Linked DNA regions of Homo sapiens: region 2 is linked to region 1. The links come from fine-mapping of genetic effects on gene expression. Tissue or cell type: whole blood. Region 1 holds a variant in brackets; the other region holds the start of a gene. All regions are shown on one strand. Distances are between the middles of the regions.

Evidence for each region. PIP is the estimated chance that this variant, and not a neighbour inherited with it, causes the effect.
Region 2: it holds the start of NOC2L, and the variant in region 1 is fine-mapped to the expression of NOC2L in whole blood (INTERVAL, PIP 0.94).

The regions. Positions count from the first base shown.
Region 1 is chr1:807,962-816,409 of GRCh38, reverse strand. It overlaps LINC01409 (long intergenic non-protein coding RNA 1409), which reads right to left. Exons shown (of 6, transcript NR_187359.1): 6 at 6,345-6,752. Among named protein-coding and RNA genes, the nearest start is that of FAM87B, 5.2 kb to the left of the region's middle. The variant GTCAGCAATCCT/T (reference allele first, on the strand shown) is at 4,951.
Region 2 is chr1:955,231-961,454 of GRCh38, reverse strand. It overlaps NOC2L (NOC2 like nucleolar associated transcriptional repressor), which reads left to right and starts at 2,199. Exons shown (of 19, transcript NM_015658.4): 1 at 2,199-2,240; 2 at 2,374-2,526; 3 at 4,182-4,356; 4 at 4,430-4,561; 5 at 5,240-5,360; 6 at 5,442-5,532. The coding sequence starts at 2,215. It overlaps KLHL17 (kelch like family member 17), which reads right to left and starts at 871. Exons shown (of 12, transcript NM_198317.3): 1 at 655-871; 2 at 1-162. The coding sequence starts at 761. RefSeq lists silencers at 318-647, 668-977, 1,936-2,195 and enhancers at 2,306-2,415, 2,074-2,931.

The DNA of each region.
Region 1 (8,448 bases):
TCAATCATCCCAGAAGCGCCCACCACATGTCCCATTTCTATTATAACCTACTTCCTCTCCCCAAAAATAACCACTTCCCAAACTCTTATGGTAATCATTTCCCTAATCTTTATAGTTTTATCACCAAGTGTATATCCCTAGACACTATAGTTTAGTGTTGTTTTATTCTTAAAATTTGATATGTTTTTAAAGTCTCTTTTAATCTACACGTTTTTCTCTCTATCTCTTTCTTTTCCTTATCTTTTACAATGTTTAAATTTTCTTCTGTTAGCACTTGTAACTTTCTTATTTTTTTTTTTTTCTAATCAGATACCTAGTGGTTTGTTTTGGTTGATTATTTTCTCTTGAGAGCCAGCTTTTGGATTTACTTCTTAGTTCTATTCTTTTTCTACTTAATAATATCTGCTTTTATTTGTAATAATTCACCCCTTTCTTTTGGTTCACTTATTCTTTTTCTGGCTTTTTCAGTTATATGTTTAAATAATTTATTTTTATTATTTAAATTTGTATTGATATAGGTATTTAATGCTATAAAGTTTCCTGTGACAGTTACTTTTTTTCTGAGTCCTATAAATTCTCTATATATTTTCCCAGCCTTTTATAGCTGTATATCTTATATGCAGTATGGTGTTTGATTTTGCTTTGTGAGCCAATCCAAGACTGTTTTCCATTTAATAGGTGAGCCAAGTCCATTTTTTACATCACAGATAACAGGGAACCACCTTGTTCTATTTTATTTGCTTTTACCCTTTTGGTATTTAAGAGGGCTTTCTTCCTCTTTTTTTTCCACTTTTATCCTAATGCCTTTATAGCAAACACTTAGTTTCTTTGGTTGGCTCCCCATAGTACCTGATACTGCAGTTAGCTGATGGACACCCCAGTCCCAGTTGGCCCCTGCACATCTTCTGCCCGCCCCTACCACTTCTCTGGTGGTTGTTCTTTGTCTGCATTGTCCAAGCTGGTAACCATGGCATGCTGCACTTTTATCACCGTCATGTGCCAGCAGCTCCACAGATAAATACAGACCACCTGCAGCTCACCTTTGCATCTGCCTCTAGTCATTTTGGTTTCCGGAGCTTATTCTTTAGTGGGTCATCCCTCAGCTCCTGGTCACCGTACTTCCTGTGTTTGTGTGTACTCATAAAAAATATGTGTGACTTTTACCCTTGATAGTCACTATTTAGATGTTAAATCTTTGGCTTATATTTTTTCCCTTAAATATCTTAAATATGTTACTGAACCTATTCTATTCTGGACCTGTAATCCCTACTACAAAGCCACTCACGAGTCCAGTTTTCATCATTTCTGATTTTACAGACATGCATTCTTAAGGGGGAGGAATTTATAGAACTGGAAGCCATGTTAATATCCTAGTCATGAGGTGGCTGAGATTTAGTCTGTCCAGGTAAGATGGTGCAGGTAGGGAGTGTGGTGGTCCAAGTGGCACGCGCAGGAAGTCACAGAATGTGGGAGGCATTGTTTTGTGTACCCTGTGCACAGAGTGTCTGATGCCCTTTGATAGGTTTGCGGCCTCATCTGGTGGACTTTCTGGCACAGCCCTTCCTCAAGGTTGCTGCATCTGAAGCTCTTTAAGACGGCGTTTCCCTTCTGCCAGATTGCACTCTGTGCACAGTGCAGTTGCTTCTCCCTGCGGAGTGAGATGGGCCCACATTGGCTGTGGCTCCACCTGGCCTTGGTGCTCTTGCCGCCCTCTGCTCTGCTGCTCCTTCATGTAATAAGGGTGTGTTAAGAGTCCGTAAGTGTGTCGTGTTAGATGTTTAGGAAGGAAATGTTAATTCTGAAAATAGGTTTCACATCTTTTTTTTAACTTATATAAAATTGACTGGACTTTCTCTTCTGGATTATCTTCTTATAATTAGAGACTAATAACACACTGATACGAAGTAGCTTTATATCAGGAAAATGGATAAACGTAAACATTTGCCTACCAGGAGAAAATAATACGACCTGATTGGAAAATGTACAGATAAAAAGCTAAGTTTAGTAGGTAGCCATTGATGAACACAGTGTGACTTAAGACAACAACTGGGGATTGTTAGAGCAGAGATTGTAGCTCCCTTCTGGGGAGGAGCTGACCAAAATGTCGTCCAGCTCCTGCTTGACAGAAGAGGTGCAGCCAAATTGATCGAAAGGAAATGTCAGAGGAGGCCAGGGTGGGAATTATCAGCAACTGTGTCTGAGGATTTGTTCCACTTTGTTTTGGTTTTGGTGAAATTATCACAGTCTGCATGTTATATGACCTTGGCACTTAGAGTCATGGCAACTTGTTGCATTTATGCGAGATTTTTTCTCCCTAAAGTCTCTTCTGTTTGATAGCATATATGTACCTTTCATAATCAATATCAAACTGAAGTAGCTTGAAAAGATAGATAATTTTATTCATTTTCTGGGATTCCATAACCACAAACTCGGTGGCTTAAAACCACAGAAATGTATGTCCTCACAATTCTGGAGGCCAGAAATCCAAAATCAAGGGCTCGGCAGGGTTGCTTCCTACTGGCAACTCAGGGAAGTTGAGTTTATGAGTATGTATTATTTTTTATTATGTGTAGTGTAGTACTTTAATAATTATTAAAAATTAAATCATTCACAAATGTTGGTCATTTTTCTTACTGGTAACAAAAGTTTTGTGACATATCTTACAGCAATATAGTTAAGAACTGATGCCCTTGATTAGCAATTTTAAAAACTGGAGGCTTATCCTAGCCTGTCTTATTTTCCTAGACTTGTGTGGAAATGATTTGAAGATGATGGCCCATAACAGCACATTTCTGTAAAGCCTGTGCTTAGAACCCTAGAGTGGTCTGGGAGATGAAGATTAAGACCTTGTTATCCATCTCTTAAGGGAAATACCATCAGAGGAAAATGCAAATCTTATTATAGGTCATCACTAGAATGAGGATTGTAATTTATAGAAATTGGGGTTTAATTATGAGAAATAGTTCCGTTCTTGGCTCTCGTTTACTTCTATTTGGAGTTGTTTTGTTGATTCTTCTCTATTCTCTTCTCTTCCTTTTCTTGAATGGAAAGGAACTTGGAAAACTCATGCCCTGTCCTTGGGCTTGTCAGAGGAAACTTGGAATGTCATTGCCTTTTGGGCACATTTGCAAGCAAGGGGGTGACATATGCTGTGGTGCAGCCTGGGTGTGGGGAGTTAAGGGCTGTTAGCTCCATCATTCAGACATGTTTTAAGTTTATGGAAACTCTGTGTTTTATACAAGTGCGTTTGTGCCCTGTGTTTTCCGCTTGTGTTGTATAACGTTCTATTCTTTGTTTTTAACACTTCCCGCCCCCACCCCATCCCTCCGACATGCACCTCAGACAGCATGAACAAGACAAGCTGCTACTTCCTCTCCTCTCTTGCACACTGTTTATCTTTAATTGCAGCAAAATACACATAACATAAAATTGCCTTCCTAACCATTTTTAAATGTACAGTTCAGTGGTGTTAAGTACATTCACATTATTGTGCAACCATTACCACCATCCTTCTCTAGAACTTTTACATCTTCCCACACTGAAACTCTGTCCCCATTAAACGCTAACTTTTCATTCTCCAGCACCCCCAGACCTGGTAACTGGCTTTCTGTTTTCTGTCTGTATGATTTGACTTTTCTGAGTACCTCACATAAGTCAAATCAGACAGTATGTGTCCTTTTGTGACTGTCTTATCTCAGCGTAACGTCCTCAAGTTTCAGCCCTATTGTAGCATGTGTCAGCATTTCCTTTTTCAGACTGAATAATATTCCATATTGTGTATAGTGTACACCACATTTTGCTTATCTATTCATCCACTGATGGACATGTGGGTTGCTTCCATGTTTATCTGTTGCAAGTAATACTGCTATGAATGTGGGTATACAAGTATCTTTCATTCTCTGCTTTCAGTTCTTTTGAATATATACCCAGAAGTGGAATTGCTGGATCATATGGTAATTCTGTGTTTAATTTTTTGAAGAACCTCCATACTGTTTCCTATAGTAGCTATACCATCCTCCATTTCCACCAACATTGCACGAAGGATCCAGTTTCCCCACATCCATGTCAATACTTGTTAAACTTTCTTTTTTTTTTTTTAATTTGCCAGTAGCCTCATAATGAGCGTGAGGTAGTATCTCATTGTAGTGTTAATTTGCATTTACCTAACAATTCGTGATGTGGAGCATCTTTTCATGGGCTTGTTGGCTGCTGTGTCTCTTCTTTGGAGAAGTGTCTGTTGAAGTTGTTTGACATTTTTTAATCAAGTTGTTGGACAGGTTCCCTTGTTTTTAAGTCAGAGTAGGTGATGTTTGTCTTGAAGGTTATAAAAAGAGAACATGTTTGCTATGACATGTAGTTGATTGCTATGAAATGTAGTTGACACATGCAGAATAGAAAGATTTATAAATTAAATACTCCTTTATTAACATTTTAATGTGTCAAATTTAAATTTCAGAAGCATTCATCTTTCTTCTCTACTTGTACATTTTTGTTTACCTGACAGTGTAAAACCCACAACCAAAAAATAATGGCTTTTTCCCCATTTAAAATACTTTGTAAAAATAGTAGCCTAGTTGTCATTTGTGAGCCCAGGCTTGGTCCTCAAGTCTGACATAGACTCCCCAAGGCCCTAACGCTGAAGTTCTCTGAGCCCTACCACTGCCCAGGCAGGCCCAGGAAGTGTCCCAGCAGTGCCCAAGAAGGTCACCTCCACCTGTGGAATCCACAGTGTGGGTAGCCCCCAGGGAGCCACAGCCATGTAGACCCAGATTCACAGGAGGATGCGGTTACTGCAAGCATCTGAACCTGGCCCCACCACCTATGGGCAGAGTTGGTTCCAGCTCAGTGTGTCCATGGGATGTCTTTAGGTTCACCTTGCTTTTCTGTCCCACGCTCACATGTTGGAGCTAAGCTGCATGGAGTGTCGTTCTCCCTGTACATATGAGATTA[GTCAGCAATCCT/T]GTCTCCTTCCATATTCTGTCTTTATTTCTGCGACACTATTTCTGGAGAACATTGTATTTGTGCTTTTCCTTTGATATGTTTGTAATTTTCGTTAGAAAACCCTTTTAGATTCTAAAGCTTCTACATTCAGTATTTCAATCAATGATAACAAACTGGTGTAAGACTAAATATAAAATACAAACACATTTCCATAAATCAACACATTTCCATAAATTGCTGTTATAATGTCTGCCACAAAAAGTTCAGTTGTTTGTATGTTTTTCAAATGTGCTTTGCTTGTCTTGATGATTTACAACTGTTGGCACTGCTGTTTAAGTCTGTTCTGACAGTGAGAAAGTGACTCATTTGGCAAAGTCAGCTGTTTTTTACTAAAAGTGAATAGTGGTGAGTGGAAAGGGGCTTGTATACAATTTTCTTGTCAAAGAACGATGACCGGCAAATAAGCAATTTTAGTTCCTTGGATTTGAGCACCACTCTTGCATGCCTCCACCAACCAGCTTGTCTCCACAGAGCTTCCTTCCTCACTTTACACTGAAAATCTGTTATCAGTGTGTGGAAAATAAAAATTTTACACATCTTTAGTTTTGAGGATGTGGATTACTATTTACAGGTTTTTTTTTTCTGTAAGGAAGACATTTTTTTAAAAAGTAAAAGGTGTTCCCATTGTTTAGTTATTGCCTTATGATTTGATTTTCTTGTTTCACAAAGAACAGCTTTTAATTAAACGTATTTAAATAGTAAAAATATACATGTCACTTCACCTGGTTCCAGTTAAATGTGTTAACAGTGTATGTGGTTGGTGCTTAATAAAAACATGTTCAGTGCAGTAATAATTAACTTCAGTTAAACCCTTAAACATATAGGGAGTAAACAGAAATGTTGAGTGGTTACTCAGCATGGGGTAAGGGACACATCAAGTCATTGGTCAGTATTGGGTATCATCATGTTCTTACCATCTTTTTTCTGGAGTTTTAATAGTTGTTTTTTAAAAAAATCTCTGTTTTAATAAGCCATTTTGATGTTTGAAACTACCTTGGATAAGCATATCAAGACCCTTCAGAGATTCTAAAACATGTTCAGCACTTTCTGGTACAATATTCTCAAAGAACCAGGATACATCTTATTTCTCAAAATGAAACAAAAATGTATTAGACATTACCCCTGTGATTTCAAGCCCACAGTCTGTCACTTTGAAGTATTTGTATCCTTTTACAAAAGAAAAGCCAAATGAAGATCTCCCTGAAAAAATATTTTAATAGAATATGTCTTTATTTCAGTATCTTAAATAGTGAAGATGGAGAAATAGTCAATAATGAAGAGCATGAATATGCATCCAAAAAAAGGAAAAAGGACCATTTTAGAAATGACACAAATACTCAAAGTAAGATCATTCTCATTAATTTTATTTTACTTGTTGATTATGTTGAAATACTAAATTACTCTGACAATGCTATCTTATGAAATAAAAGGTGATACAAATATGTAAATAACAGCCCAGTATCCAGCATTGCCTACATATTTAGTGATCAAACTTTTTGCAGCCCAACGTTTCAGTGGGTAAGATGTGCAAAAACAAAATAAGAGATAGCAAAACCCACAAAACAGCCCATGAATCTGAATGCTTGAATTATGGTCATGAATTCAGCTCAATCTTGAGCAGTGAGGCCAAACTGAGAGGTGTCCTGACTTGAGTTTCGAAGTCACTGAAGATTCAGAGCAGGAGACAGACATTCAGAGCTGGAGTTTAGGATGTTAGATGGCAGCAGGGGAAGGCTGGAGGTGGGACCTATCTGTGAGAGGGCATAGCGTTCTATCATGCAGCATATCTGTGAGTTACCAAGACACATGTTAATGTATAGTAGGCTTCCTTACCTCAGGGGATAGACCTCCAGTGGATGCCTGAAACTGTGGATACTACCAAACCTTATGGATACTATGTTTTTTTTTCTGTATATACACACTTATAATAAAGTTTAATTTATAAATTAGGTGCAGTAAGAGATTAACGAGAATAATAATAAAATGAAACAGTTATAGCAAGATGGCCACCATCACTGCTCTTGCACTTTGGGGCTATTATGAAGTGCAATAAGGGTTCTTTAAACACAAGCACTGTGATATCTCAACAGGTGATCCGATAACCAAGACGGCTACTGAGTGACCAAGGGGCGGGTAGTGTAGGACTCGCTTGACAAAGGGAGGATTTGCATCCCAGGCAGGACAGAGCAGGACGGTGTGAGATTTCATGACACCACCCAGAATGGCACACAATTTAAAACTTATGAATGGTTTATTTCTGGAATTTTCCACTTAATGTTTTCAAACCAAAGCTGACTGTGGGTAATTGAAACTGTAGAAGATGAAACTGTGAATACGGGGGGACTACTTTATGAAGAAGATAGGGTCACATGGAGAATACAGTTAGTGTGATTCTTGAAACTTTTAAGATTTATCTGAAAAATTTGTTTCTATGGAGTACTATACACAGCAACAGAAGAATAGAACTTTTTATTAGGGTACATAGGAATGTAGTAATGTAATTGCATTTTATAATCATTTATGTCTTCATATGGCTTCAGTCATTAATAATACTAATTTTCTTCTAAGTTACTAGGACTTGGTACTGTCTGAAATCATTGTTCATATCTTAAACTGATTTAAGAAACAAAGCAATTCTGTTTGCATTCAACCAAGTAAAAGCATTTCTTGTCAATATAGTAAGTCAGATAATTTTGTTAATATGTCCAATTATTTAAATTCCTTTAAAATCTTCATTTTGAAATGATTTGCCAGATTTTAAAAACAAAGGTAATTTTTATTCTAGGTTTTTATCATGAAAAATGGATCTATGTCCATAAAGAAAGCACAAAAGAAGTAAGTATTCTATTATAAATAAGAGAGTATCTTGGATTGTTTCTGTTGAATATGGAGTCACATTAAATAAATGTATTAATAAAGTTGCATAAAACACATTTCTTTTGCAATATCAGATCTATGGTTCACATTCTGACAGATAATAGCATATGAGGAGCTTTTGAGGCAGTGATTCTCCATTGTGTGTGCTTGCATGTGCATGTGGTATGTGGCTGTGTATTTGTGCACACATTGGTGTGTGTTGTGTGTATGGTGTATGTGTGTTGTATGTATGGTGTGTATGTATGGTTGTGCATGTATTTATGCACACATTGGTCTGTGGGATGTATGGTGTGTGGTGGCATGTGGTATATGTGTACAGTGTGTGGTTCCTGCCTACCTGTACATATCTGAGTCAACAGCAGGGCTATTTAAACCAAGCATGGACTCCTGCAGTCATACGCATTTTCTCTGTGTTAGCATGAACCCCTGATGCTGATGGGAATGTGTCCTCCCTGTGGCGTGTTTTGGAGGGCAGGGCATCTGTGAGCCCTCTCATTCCACATAAAGAGTGGCTAACATGAAATTAGTAATTGGGTTGGGTTTGTGCAGAGCCATATGAACTCTTTCCCT
Region 2 (6,224 bases), 150 kb before region 1:
AGGCCGCGCTGGCGCATGCGGCTCATGGCCACGAAGGCATCGTGGTAGTGCCGCTTGGAGTTGTGGGCCACGCTGTGGCCCTCGCGGCTCAGCAGCTGCACGGCTCCCTCCATGGGGGCTGCGGGCCGAGCCTGCCGGGGCCGCGTGCGCTCTGCCTCGGGGCTGCAGGAGGCGGGCGGGTCAGGCTTCGCCCCGCTGGAGCCGCCCGCCCGCCCTGGAGCCGCTGGGGGGCCCGGGCAGCCCGCGGGGACCCAGCCCCTGGTGCGACGGGGGCGCCGGCAGCCCTCGCCTGACCTCCGCCAAGGACCCCCGCCCCGGAGCGCGCCGTGTCCAGGCCTCCGCTGCGCCCCTGCTCCCCTGGGGCGTAGTCAGAGCCGCGAACAGAGCCCCGCGTCCGGCCCCGCTTCCCGGCGCCCCCACGAGCTCAGCTCCTCCGCGTCCCTAGCCGCCCTCTCGGGACCGCAGCGGGAGTCGCGTCCTGGGCGCGCGGGGCGCGGGTGGGGAACCTACTCCGGGCCGACCCCGCTCCGCACCTGAGTCCCGACCTCCCCCGGCCCTCGGAAGCGGCCCCCGCCCCTTCTGCGAGCGGACGCGAGGGCGGGGGCCGCGCAGGTCCCGAGGCCGCCCCCCGCGCCCCGACCCCCGCCCACTCACGCCGGCGGCTGCGGCGGTGGAGGCGGCGGCGCCTCGGGCCCGGGCCCCGGGCTGCCGTGCTCCGGGCTCTGCGTCCTGCCGGCCGGGCGCTCGCTGCGGGGCTGCATTCGGCTGCCGGACCCACCGCCGATTCGCGGAGGACCCGCGGGCTTAACGGACGCGGAGACTGCCGGAGGGCTGCTCGGCGGTGGCGGCCCGCTCTGTGTCGCTCACTCCCGCCGCTCCCGCCCGCAGCCGCTGTTTCTCGGCGCCGCCCGCCCCGCCTCCCGAGAGGCTTCGGGGACTAGACGTTGGACGCGGATTCTTCCAGCGCTGCGCCCCGGGTCCGCCTCCTCCTCCGAGAAGCACCCCCAGACCCCGCCATCCTCCTCCTCCGGGAAGCCCCCCACCAGGCCTCGCCCTCCTCCTCCTCCGAGAAGCCCCCCTAGGCCTCGCCATCTTCCTTCTCCGAGAAGCCCCCCAGGCCCCGCCATCCTCCTCCTCTGGGAAGCCCCCGGCCTAGCCCTCCTCCTCCTCCTCCTCCGGGAAGCCCCCCTAGGTCTCGCCTTCCTTCTTCCCCGGGAAGCCCCCCACAGGCCTCGCCCTCCTGTTTCTCCGAAGAGCCCTCCTAAGCCTCGCCCTCCTCCTCCTCCAAGGAGCCCCCCTAAGCCTCGCCCTCTTCCTCCTCCGAGGAGCCCCCCAGGCCTCGCCCTCCTCCTCCCCCGGAAGCCATCCCCGCTCCCCCGACCCCCTAACTTGCTCTCCTCCGGGGAGCCCCGGGGCCCCGCGGCACCAAGAAGTCGAATGGGACCCCGAGGCCAATCCGCCCGTGTTCGCCTCACGCGCCCCCTCAGCGCCAGGGCTGGGGGAGCCGTGCCTGCGCCCCGCGGCGCCCTTGTCGCGGGGTCTGGCTGTCCAGGCCCGGGGGCCCGGGTGTCAGGCTGGTAGCGGGAAGGAAGGCGCCGGCCTCCCCACCGTCTTCGTCCCGTGCGGCGTCCCCGGGAAGAGCCGCGGTCGGCACCCAGAGGGCCATGGACGGGGAGCGCCCTGCGTGGTGTTCGTGGCGCTGGCCCGGTCTCCGCGGATCGGAGGCGAAGCCAGCCTGGCCCTCGGGTCGCCCGTCTTTTGTCGAGCTGGCGACATCAGTGCGGTTCCCACTGCCCCTCGCGTTTTCCACTGGACTCCCTGCTTTTTATTGTTGATTTGTGGGAGCTCTTTGCATAGGAGCCCCGCCGTTGCAGTCTGGCGTCCTCGCAGGCGCGTGCCTTCGGAGCGCCGGGTGGGCTGCGGGCGCGGCGGGACTCCCGGTCTTCCCCGGGGCGGACACCGGCGTCACCGCGTCCTACGGAGCCGGGCGCCGAGCGGGAGGCGCATCTGGGCCCCACCGGGGCTGCCCGCACCGAGCACGCGAACGCGCCCTCCCGCCCTGAGGCCGCCGGCGTTGCGGTCGGAGAACCATAGAGCCACTCGGCTGGGCGTGGCGCGGCGGGGCGGGGAAAGGGGCGGGGCCTGGGCGGCGGAAGTGCGCAGCCGCGCGGCATTCTGGGGCCGGAAGTGGGGTGCACGCTTCGGGTTGGTGTCATGGCAGCTGCGGGGAGCCGCAAGAGGTAAGCCGCGGGTCCGAGGGCCGATTTGGCCTCCCGGTGGGTGTCTGTATCCAAGGGGGCTTTTCTTGCTCCTCTCAGCGGGGCTGGGGCGAGCTGGGCGTGCGGGCAGCTGTGACTCCTGCGTGACCCGCAGGCGCCTGGCGGAGCTGACGGTGGACGAGTTCCTAGCTTCGGGCTTTGACTCCGAGTCCGAATCCGAGTCCGAAAATTCTCCACAAGCGGAGACACGGGAAGCACGCGAGGCTGCCCGGAGTCCGGATAAGCCGGGCGGGAGCCCCTCGGCCAGGTTAGTGGGGACATGCGTGAGCAGAACCTCTTGCTCGTCCTGTCCCACCCCGGTTGGGTTGCTGACCTCGCCTGGGGTCTCAGGGCCAAGGCCTAAGGATCGCCGACCTCTGCCCCCCAGTCCTTTCAGCTTAACTTACTCTTTCATCCGATGTTTACTGAGCTCCTGTTCCGTGCCAAACTCTGTCCTAGGCAGGGAGCGTATGTTGGTGAGTTGTGCAAAAATCTCTTCCCGATCTAGGAGAACTCTCACGTTCTTGGGTGAAATCACCGCCTGCAGTTCGGTAGAAGAGAGATAAGTGCTGGGGAGGGAAAGGAAGGACAGAGGGGCTGAAGAGAGAGTTGCAGGGGAGCCGAGTTGCTCTGTTAGAAGGAGCGGAGGCTGTGCTCGGTGGCTCACGCCTGTAATGCCAGCACTTTGGGAGGCCGAGGCGGGCAGATTACCTGAGGTCAGGAATTCGAGACCAGCCTGACCAACACGGAAAAATCATGTCTCTACTAAAAATATAAAAATTAGCCGGGCGTGGTGGGCACCTGTAATCCCAACTACTCGGGAGGCTGAGGCAGGAGAATCGCTTGAACTTGGGAGGCGGAGGTTGCAGTGAGCCGAGATGGCACCATTGCATTCCAGCCTGGGTGAGAGAGTGAGACTCCATCTCAAAAAGAAAAAGAAAGAAATCAAAAGATACAAAAATTAGCCTGGCGTGGTGACACACACCTGTCGTCCCAGCTACTCGGGAGGCTGAGGCAGGAGAATCGCTTGAACCCGGGAGGCGGAGGTTGCGGTGAGTGGAGATTGCGCCACTGCACTCCAGCCTGGGCGACAGAGTGAGATTCCGCCTCAGGAGAAAAAAAAAAAAAAAAAAAAGCGGAGGTGGTTGTTTGAGAAGATGACGTCTGAATAAAGACCTCGAACAAGGAGGCCACACAGACAGTAGGGGAAACGTGTCTTAGGATTTCAGGCAGCAGAAAACAGCAAAAGCCTTGCAGTGGGAGCATTTGGGGAGAGTACAGAGGTAAACGTGGCTACGGCAGGAGTGAGGGGGTGAATAGGGGTAGATGAGCCCAGAAGGGTGATGAAGAGCCAGGTGCCGTAGACCGTCATAAGATTGCCTCGTAAAACAGGGAGTTACTTCTGGGTTTGAGCGGTGGAGTGCCTTGTAGGTGACAAGGGTGGAAACAGAGAGACCTTTAGGTTAACTGAGAATTGAACTATGTGGTGGTTTGAGAGGAGGCACGAACGGTTTTGAAGGTGTTGCTGATGAGATCTGATGACAAGTTGCGTGCTGGGTATTAGAGACAGAGATTTGCCTTTAGTCTGAGCCTCTGGAAGGGTGAAGCCACCATCAGGCAAAAGTAGCGCAGGGCACAGGCACAGCAAGTCCAGGGAAGACCGCGGCTGGGGGCCTGTGTAGCGCAGGGCGCAGGCACAGCAAGTCCAGGGAAGACCGCGGCTGGGGGGCCTGTGTAGTGTGTTTGAGGGTATGTTGTAGAGGTTGTTGGGTAGGAGACGTGAGTCTGCCAAAAACGTACCTCCTGGCAATCCTGTCTTGCTAGTTGGTAACCCTTGTGAAGGGAGTAGACTGACCCTGTAGGCCACTCCCCGCCCCCTCTACTTCCACTTCCCACTGGGGTCGCTGACTTCTGCCTCCTCAGCCGGCGTAAAGGCCGTGCCTCTGAGCACAAAGACCAGCTCTCTCGGCTGAAGGACAGAGACCCCGAGTTCTACAAGTTCCTGCAGGAGAATGACCAGAGCCTGCTAAACTTCAGCGACTCGGACAGCTCTGAGGAGGAAGAGGGGCCGTTCCACTCCCTGCCAGATGTGCTGGAGGTGAGGGCGTGGGCCAAACCAGAAGGGGGGCACTTGTCTCTACACTCTCCTTCAGCTCAGCCTTTCTGTGCAGGAAGCCAGTGAGGAGGAGGATGGAGCGGAGGAAGGAGAAGATGGGGACAGAGTCCCCAGAGGGCTGAAGGGGAAGAAGAATTCTGTTCCTGTGACCGTCGCCATGGTTGAGAGATGGAAGCAGGCAGCAAAGGTGAGCAGCAGCCAGGGGCGGGCAGCTGGGTGCCCAGGCAGAAATCTGGCCTTGCCTCACCTGAGGTGAGCAGCAGCGAGGGGCGGGCAGCTGGGTGCCCAGGCAGAGATCTGGCCTTGCCTCACCTGAGGCGCCTGAGGCTGTGCTGGTGGGAGGGGCTGTTCTCCACGCAGGGGACGCTTGGAGCCTTCTTCAGCGCAAGTGACAACACGTTGCTCCTCCTGCTTGCTTGGTTGCCCCAGGACTGTGTGTTCACTTTTGGGTAGATTCCAGGGGCTCTGTTGGCGCCCCACTCCCCAAAGTCAGTCCCGCTGTGGGTGGGACGGACTGTGCCTTTGTTGGTTGGTGGAGCTGGGGTCCTTCTGAGCCTCTCACAGTGTTTTTTTCCAGGGACAAGGATACGGAGAGCTCCAGATACCACCTGGAGGTGGCCATAGTCCAGGATCTGGAACTCCCAGTCCTTTTCCTGGGGCTCCTGAGCCAGACTCCCTCCTCTTCCCAGAGAATTCTAGACTTTGTTTCCATTTTTGTTATCAGTATGGGGCTCTGTGCCTCCCCCCAACCTCTGCCCTATGTCTGAGGGTGAGGGTGAGGGTGCCTTTCTCTGGGGCTGCCGTTTCCACTCTGCCAAGTGCAGTCTCAGCTCCCCTGACGCCCCTGGTACTCTTGCTCCTTCAGCAACGCCTCACTCCAAAGCTGTTCCATGAAGTGGTACAGGCGTTCCGAGCAGCTGTGGCCACCACCCGAGGGGACCAGGAAAGTGCTGAGGCCAACAAATTCCAGGTCACGGACAGTGCTGGTGAGCTTGGGGGGAGCCTGGCATCCAGGCTGTCTGTTGCGTTCTCTGTCCCGTGAGTACATCCAGGCCTTTTCGTTGCAGCATTCAATGCTCTGGTTACCTTCTGCATCAGAGACCTCATTGGCTGTCTCCAGAAGCTGCTGTTTGGAAAGGTGGCAAAGGATAGCAGCAGGTAAGAGGGGAGGGGGTGAAGGGGGGTAGGGTGGAAGGTGGGTCGGGACCACACACAGGAGAAGCCAGAGGCCTTGTGGCTAGGACAGAGACATGGCAACAGAGCCAGCGTCTTCTTGGGGACCCTGAGAAGGCAGCGGGGCACGAGGGACCGTTGGGAGAGGCTGGGCACTTGGGGCCAGTTGGAGCGGCCCCACCTTCTTTCCTTCCTGAAAAGGGAAGTTGTCTGCTCAGAGTCTCAGAAGGTGTGGCGTGTGCAGCTGCCTTTGCTCTCAGATTTTCCCAGGTTAGGGTTCTTGCTCTATTTCCCTTTGTAAGAACTTGTAAGTCCTGTCCATACTCCTTGATCTCTGCACTATGACTGGCCTGTTTCCTGGAGCTGTGTGTGTCTGTAGACAGGGGCCTCATCAATGCTGAGAACCTGAGGGCCTCAACTTCCCCTTTAGAGAAAGATTGGGCAGAGAAGGCCGTGGAAGGTTTTCAGAGAAGAGAGACGCACGGCCAAGCATTTGGTAGAGCATGGAGCACGTTGGGGTTCCGGGGCTGTGCAGCCATGTGACCTTGAGGCAGTGGAGGCCTAGAGTTGGAACTGCCCCAGGACACCTTCAAAGGAAGAAAGGAGACCCACAGGAGAGGTCTCGCCGACAGCGGCTCAGGAGACAGGGGCACTGTTGCTGGTGGTAGTGGTCGGGG